Linked DNA regions of Homo sapiens. The protein of the gene in region 2 interacts with the protein of the main gene of each other region in a pairwise test. Each region holds a gene or a part of one and is shown on either strand. Other genes may lie near its edges.

Region 1 (3,500 bases), on a different chromosome or scaffold from region 2:
TCATAAATTATTTGGAGCTCTTCTGCATGGGAGATGGGTCTCTCCCTTCCCTTCATTTATTTATTTAATCATTTATTTTTCTATCAGTATGGGCTCATAAATATTTGTTTTATACTTTGGGTTATAATCCAATACTATTTTATTTATTAAAGACTTAGTGGATTTCTTATGCTGTTATTACATATTCATCTTTTTAATATTCTTCCCAGATGTAACTGTGCCATTCTTTTGGCCACTCCTATCATTTATAATATCATGCTTACTCCCTTCTTTCCTTTTTATCCTGCTGTTTATCAGCATTCTTTATATCTTTCTTAGTAGTCTGGAGGATTGCTTTTTTGTTGTTGTTCTTGTTATTTAAACGATGATGTCAGTATCCCTGTTGATATATGGATATTTTTGTGTGTGTTTAGTTGAATTACATTTTTCTTTCCCACTCCATTAGGAAAGGAATTTCTTGATGTTTGCTCACCACTATATGTCCAGTGCTGAGCAAAGTTCCTGGTTAATAGTAGGTATAAATATATGCCTGTTGATTCTATGGTGCCTTAGTCCATTCAGGCTGCTGTAACAAAATACCATAAACGGAGTAGCTTATAAACAACGTTTATTTCTCACAGCTCTGGAGGCTGAGAAGTTCACAATCAAGATACCAGCAAATTCAGTGTCAGGCAAGGGCCCACTTCCTGGTTCATAGATGGAGCCTTCTCAGGGTGACCTCCCATGGCGGAAGAAGCAAGGCAGCTCTGAGGTCTCTTTGTAAGCGCACTGTTGTCATGACCAGATCACGGTCCAAAGCCTTCAACTCCTAATACCATCACATTGGTGATTAGATTTCAACATATGAATGTGGGGGGACATAAACCACAGCAGATGGAATGGGGATGAGGTAGGGTAGGTAAAAGAAGTGTATAGATTGAACTGATTGCAATATAAATCATGAAGCTCTAACTTCATGTTAAGTAGGTGGAGTGTTAGATTTCTCTGAGGCATCATTTAAGCTGATATGTCAAAAAATAATAGGAATGAGTATTCCGTGTTTGGTGGGGTGTTGTCATGCCTTTTGGGGTCTCTCAGAGCCAAGGAGCTGATCATGAATCAGTTCCTGATTCCACCTAACCAGTAGCAGCTGGTCCTCAGATCTGGACTGGAACCTGATCCAGGCGCTTAGCCTGAGTCTAATCTCTCATCAACTGATAAAGATTGTGGTAGGGGAGAGAGGTCTGAATCTTTTGTAAAATCACAAGGTTCTGCCTTTTTGCCAGAACTGACCCAAAACAGCACTCCAGGGAACCGGTACTAGGAAAATTCTGCCCTCTGTATCTATTGTTAAGAAGCAACTGCCATAATCAATTTGCTGGAGAGAAGTGGTTCCGTGCTGGCACAGTCTCAATTATCTGATGAACAGAAACGCTAAAATGGGCTTGTAGGTGGATTTAACAACCATTTCAAGACTATGAAAGAAATTATATTAGAAAGAATGAAGTCAAAAACAAAAACTTCAGCCTGAGCACAGTGAGTTCCCTATGACTGAAAACACTCATTTATCCTCCCACATGAGCAGTTTAATGAGAGGAGCCCACAGGAGCTTACGGATGTTCACCACCCATGGTTTCCATTGCATTGGTTTCCTCCTGTGGGCCTTCCTCATAGAGAAGATGTATTGGAATATAGAGGTAAGAGCTGCTAGCTTTATTGAAGTCAGACCACCAGGAAGCTATAAAGGCCATTCTTAAAATAATATTTTTTCATCCCATAGCAATATAGTAGTAACACTGCTGAGTCAATACTCCAGTATACCCCTCTTGCTAGACTGATGTTTTGAGGAAGATGGTGGTGAAGATGGAAAAGGGGAATCAGAACCTGGGTCAGGTGCCTCCTTTGGCAAAAGCAGCAAAATAAAACTTAAAACCAGGGATTGTTTTCTTGGACGGTGTTACTGTTAACAAGGCTAGAACTCAGAAAAAATAACCCAACTGTATTACTTTTCTATTTCTGTGAAACACATGACCAAAAACAAAACAATACAAATTGATTGTCTTAAACTTCTAGAGGTCAGAAGTCTGAAACAGGTCTCACTGGCCTAAAATCAAGGTATCAGCATGAAGCATTCCTTCTGGAGGTTCTAGGGCAGAATCTGTTTCCATGGCTTTTCCAGCTTCTGGAGGCGCCCCACTCACGGCCCTGTCCTGCCAGGCTGCCACCTGTCCCCACTCACGGCCCTGCGACACCAGGCTGCCACCTCTCTTGTTCTCTCTCTTCTGCTTCCTTCTTCCACTCATCAGGACCCTTGTCATTACCTTGGGCTTACCTGAGTAACTCTGGATAATTTATCCATTTCAAAGTCAGCTGGTTAGCAACTTTCATCCATCTACAACTGCAATTCCTATTTACCATGTAAAGTAAGATATTTATAGGTTCTGGGGAGTAGGATGTGGACATCTTTGTGGGGCTATTATTCTGTTTCTCACAGCAGCCAAAATGAGGTTATGCACAGCGACAGTGTTTTCAGTGCTGTAGCCAAGAATATTCTAGATTCCATGAAGCCACCATAACTTTTACCTTTAAAGTATAACTCATAGTGATATAAAGCTGGTTGGTTTTTTGGTTTTGTTTGTTTGTTTGTTTGTTTGTTTTATTTGAGATGGAATCTTGCTCTGTCACCCAAGCTGGAATGCAGTGGCGCAATCTCAGCTCACCACAACCTCCACCTCCTGGTTTCAAGCAATTCTCCTGCCTCAGCCTCCTGAGTAGCTGGGATTATAGGCTCCCACCACCACGCCCACCTAACTTTTGTATTTTTAGTAGAGACTGGGTTTCGTCATGTTGGCCAGGCTGGTCTTGATCTCCTGACCTCAGATGATCTGCCTGCCTTGGCTTCCCAAAGTGCTGGGATTACAGGCGTGAGCCACCGCGCCTGGCCTAAAGCTATATTTTTTATTAGTTGTATTTCAAATTGCATAGTATGGTGGTAAAGAACATGCACTCCAATGCAGCACTCTGTGCTCTTACCAGCTGTGTGATCTTATACAGGTTAACACCTGTATTATGTCAGTTTACTCATCAGTGTTGGTGATAATCCCAATAAGAGTGCTTACCTCATAGAGGTTTAGGGAGAATTACATGTATAACACACTTAGTAAACTGAAGAAGCCATTGAAGCCTTTTGACATTGAATATCAGTTTGATTTGCATTTTAAAGAGAATGCATTGGATGGAGTATGGTGAATGGAAGGATTGGGGTGGGGGGAGTCAAACTGGGGAGACCAGTTAGAAGTTATTGGAGTAGTCCAGGCAATTGCTTGTGTAAGTACTTATTTTATATAGTTTATTGATAAATATACTCACATAATTACACATACACATATAACCACTGACAATTGCTTTTTACAGTTGTCACCTAATGATGCGATGTGTTCTGAGAAATGTGTCGTTAGGTGATTTTGTTATTGTGTGATCATAGAGTGTACTTACAGAAACCTAGATGGTAGAGCCTGCTG
Region 2 (4,179 bases):
TGGCAGGAAGCGGCAGCACGACCCCCGACTTTGCATCTGGACTTTTCTAGTAACGGACCAGCTCCTTCTGCCGACCGGGCCGGGGAGACCGCGTGGCTCAGTGGCTGCAGCGGCCACCGGCCCGGGCGTGGGGGCTTTGAGGGCACCGGCGCGGTAGGTCACCCGGGTTTCGCGGGCCGCAAGCTCGGAGACGCGCGTGTCCCGCGTTGGCTGCCTGACCCGGAATGGCGCAGCCCCTTCGCCTCCAGCGCGCTGGTTGAAAGGATCCGAGCCACCCTCGGGGACGGCCGGGCCGAGGCCACCTCGCGGGGCGGCCTTGGGCGGGGACCCGGACCCGCGGTTGGACGTTCGCCTCGGGGGGGGCAATGTCCCCTCTCCGACCCCGCGGTCCCCACCAGGGCGGCACACCCCGCCCTCTCCCCGCCTCCGCAGGCGCCCAGGGCTCACAGGCTCGGAGCGGCCTCCGCCTCTGCCGGACCACCCAGGGCCGCCCCGCCGGAGGGGCCTCCCCGCCCCCGAGCCCTAGGTCACGCCCGGAAGGCCCGGGGCCCCCGCGTCCGGCCACGCCATCCGCCCGGCGGCCCCAGGGACTCAGCGCCGGGGTCAGCGCAGGCCCCGCCCAGCGCTCCCGCCCCCTCCAGCTGGCCGGCCCCCGGGACCGCGCCCCCGCCCGCGCTCTCCACGCTCGCACTCGTATGGGCAGGGCGGCCCGGGGTCCCCCAGCTCCGAGCCGCGGCCCCTTGAAGCGCGTTACCTGGACGTGCGCTGTCCGCAGACTCTGGACGAGCTGGGCCTGGGCGCTGCGCGGCGGAACCGACCCTGTCCTGGACCGCAGGCAGCAGCTGACCCCGCGCCACCGGCCTGCGGGCGAGACCTCAGGCGCGAGACGGGCTGTGTGTGTGTGTGTGTGTGTGAGAGAGAGAGAGAGAGAGAGAGAGAGAGAGAGAGAGAGAGAGAGTGTGTGTGTGTGTGTGTGTGTGTGTGTGTGTGTGTGTGTGTGTCGGGGGAGGGGCCCGAGGACCCGCTTCCTAGCTGAGCGTCAGGACGGGGGGCGGACTCTCAGGAGCCGCGCGGCGCCCGCAGAGGAGAGGAAGCGCCGGAGACCCCCCTGCTCCCACCCGGCCTCCCTGCCCCGCTTCCTTTCCCGGGGCTCCAGAGAGGGGAGCTCCAGGCGTGGGGCGCCTGGCCCACGTGGTGCGGCGCCGGGCGGGGCAGGCGGGGGCGCGGCGAGAGCCGCGGAGCTTTCTTTATGGGTGGGGGGGCGGGGGCGGCCGGGCTCCGCCTCCGGGGGATCGGGGCGCGCTCCGCCAATGGGTAGCCGGGCGCGGGGCGGGGCCGCGGGGCCGCCGCTTAAAGAAACTTGTTGCGGGTCCCGCAGCGGGACCCGAGCCTCGGCGGCGGCGGCGGCGGCGGCAGGGGCGAGGGTCGGGGCCACCGCGCGGCGACCTCGGGTCCCGGAGCGACCGCAGGGCAGCCCCGGGCGCCGGCCCCGGTGCGCGTCTCCTGTGCGCGCCCCTCCGCGCGCGGCCCCGATGCTGGACATGAGCGAGGCCCGCTCCCAGCCGCCCTGCAGCCCGTCCGGCACCGCCAGCTCCATGTCGCACGTGGAGGACTCGGACTCGGACGCGCCGCCGTCTCCCGCCGGCTCCGAGGGCCTGGGCCGCGCGGGGGTCGCGGTGGGGGGCGCCCGGGGCGACCCGGCGGAGGCGGCGGACGAGCGCTTCCCGGCCTGCATCCGCGACGCCGTGTCGCAGGTGCTCAAGGGCTACGACTGGAGTCTGGTGCCCATGCCGGTGCGCGGCGGCGGCGGCGGCGCGCTCAAAGCCAAGCCGCATGTGAAGCGGCCCATGAACGCATTCATGGTGTGGGCGCAGGCGGCGCGCCGCAAGCTGGCCGACCAGTACCCGCACCTGCACAACGCCGAGCTCAGCAAGACGCTGGGCAAGCTGTGGCGGTGAGTGCCGGCGCCCCGGGGGCGGGGTTCGGGACCTTGGCCGCCCCTGGTCTCGGACTGCGAGCGGGGGCCTGGAGGGCGCAGAGCTCGCGGAGGTGGTGGCCACACGCAGGCTCCGGGCTCTGCACCCCGGGCGGGTGTCAGGGCGGGTCCCAGTGGAAAAACATCCTCTGGCCAGCCGGGGTCCGGCGCCAGCTATGGGAGTCGGGATCCGCGGAGGGCAGCGCCTGGGGTGTGCACCCTCGTGGCGGGTGCGCTCTGGAGCCAGTTCTCCTGGCGGGGAACACCCTGCGGAGGGCCATGGCTGGCACCCCGACGTGCCCTCCAGCCGTTGCGAGTGGCCCCAGCCCCGGGAGGCACGCCCGGCACGACAGCAAGTTGCATGCGGCTCTCTGGAGGTGCTCCCTCCTTAGAAAGGGCTCAGCTCCTCTAGCTCCTGGACCACCCATGGGGAGGGAGTGCGGCAGGCGGATGGGTGGGCAGCAGGTTTGCCTGCGAGTACCCTCCCCGCAGTTTCTCCCTCTCCTGGACACCCTCGGTCCGAAGCAGGGAGGGCAGGAGTGGAGATGACGGGGTGCGCCGTGTGCACGCCTTGGCGTGGTGGGGCCGGTCAGTTTTCCAGAAATTAGGACTGCAGAGTGAAGAACTTGTTGCTCAGGACAGGCCGCCCCCACCGAGTGTCCTCTGGTTGGGTTTCAAATGGTTCTCTTGGTTTGGGGCTCTGGTTCCCGTATCCTGCTCCTCACCTGGAAGAAGGGAGCTTGGAGCTTGCGTATTTGCACCTCCTGCCTTCTGTCTGGATCTAGGGCGCAGCCACGGGGCGCTGTGGACGGCAGGCCCCTGCTCCCCCAAGTCCTGCCGCACAGGCGGTTGGAGGTGAGCCTCGGGAAGAGTCCCAAGGAGTGTGTCCTGTGGCTCAGTGAGGACGGGCGCCTGGGCCCTGCCAGGGCTTCTGGGTGTCTGGGAATGGAGGGACAGCAGCCCAGCTGCCCGCCGAAGGCCGGCACCGTTCCCGGGAAGCCTCGCTTTTGTCCACCGCCGGCTGGGTCCTGCCCGCCTCCCCCGCCTCCCTTAGAAAGCCCCAGAGGGAGGGAACAGCAGGCCCGGAATAGGGGGAAATAGAAGGAGGAAGATGGGAGGCGTGGGGCTTGTTCTTCTTTGGCTGTCGTAAGCATACCAACCTTCCCAAACAGGCGCCGGCCGGTTCTCCCAGAGGAGTGTACTGCCTGGTGCCACGGGAGGCTCCGGAGCGCACGGCAGGCGGGTTTCCCTGGTCAGAGCCTCCTGGCCCCGGCCTCTGCTGCCGGTTCCCCCTGTGGTGTGTGCCTGCGCCGAGGGCACAGTGGGCGCCCTGGCCATCCCTGCCTCTGCCCTGTGCTGCAGCTTGCTGAGCGAGAGCGAGAAGCGGCCCTTCGTGGAGGAGGCAGAGCGCCTTCGCGTGCAGCACAAGAAGGACCACCCCGACTACAAGTACCAGCCACGGCGCAGGAAGAGCGCCAAAGCCGGCCACAGCGACTCCGACTCGGGCGCGGAGCTGGGACCCCACCCTGGCGGCGGTGCCGTGTACAAGGCTGAAGCAGGGCTTGGAGATGGGCACCACCATGGCGACCACACAGGTGGGCTCCAGGCCCCCCGCATATCTGAGGGTCCCTGTATGGGAGGCAGCTGTGGGGTTTCTGGCTGAGAAGGGTGCATGATGGTGGAGGGGGGCAGGCGCCCTCGAGAGAACCGGGCCTTCCCCGGGTTCCCTGAAAAAGCTCCCAAGGCCCCGGCCGCCCCTGTTTTTGGTGCACGAGGGACCTGCTTAGCCACCTTGAGTGCTGAGGGGCTGACAGCTTTGCTTGGCAGGGACCCCGAGAGGTGGTGTTTTCAGCAAGACTCAGTCCAATGCGGGCTCCTCTTCCCACACCGAGCTGCTGCCCACACGGCACTCAGCAGCCCCAGCTTCAGGGCCAGACTGACAGGGTGGAGTCCTGCCGGGGCCTCGGTCAGGCTGGCTGACGCCCGCCAGCCTCAGAGTGCTTGGCTGGCCCGGGGAGGAACAGGGTCTGTGTGGTCCCCCAGCGCCCTGTAAACCCCAGCTCTGGCCAGGCTGGGCCTGTCGGCTTCTTCCCCCCACCTTGGTCTCTGGGAGGGGCCTCGGGTCTTCTCATAGCACAGCGCTTCATGGAATTTTCTCGGCCGAGGAGTGAGGTCTAGGTCTGACTTTGCTGGAATTTCTGGGA

The links. Proteins that work in one complex are often made in the same cells at the same time.
Region 1: the proteins of SOX8 (region 2) and JAM2 interact in a two-hybrid assay, tested with the Homo sapiens proteins (one large-scale study listed by BioGRID and IntAct).

Annotation. Positions count from the first base shown.
Region 1 is NC_000021.9:25,642,258-25,645,757, forward strand, and holds part of JAM2 (junctional adhesion molecule B isoform 1 precursor), read left to right. Parts: intron 1-590; exon of another isoform or gene 591-3,500. UniProt on the Homo sapiens protein: Junctional adhesion protein that mediates heterotypic cell-cell interactions with its cognate receptor JAM3 to regulate different cellular processes. Plays a role in homing and mobilization of hematopoietic stem and progenitor cells within the bone marrow.
Region 2 is NC_000016.10:980,391-984,569, forward strand, and holds the start of SOX8 (transcription factor SOX-8), read left to right. Parts: upstream 1-1,379; 5' UTR 1,380-1,532; coding exon 1,533-1,954; intron 1,955-3,337; coding exon 3,338-3,570; intron 3,571-4,179. UniProt on the Homo sapiens protein: Transcription factor that may play a role in central nervous system, limb and facial development. May be involved in male sex determination. Binds the consensus motif 5'-[AT][AT]CAA[AT]G-3'.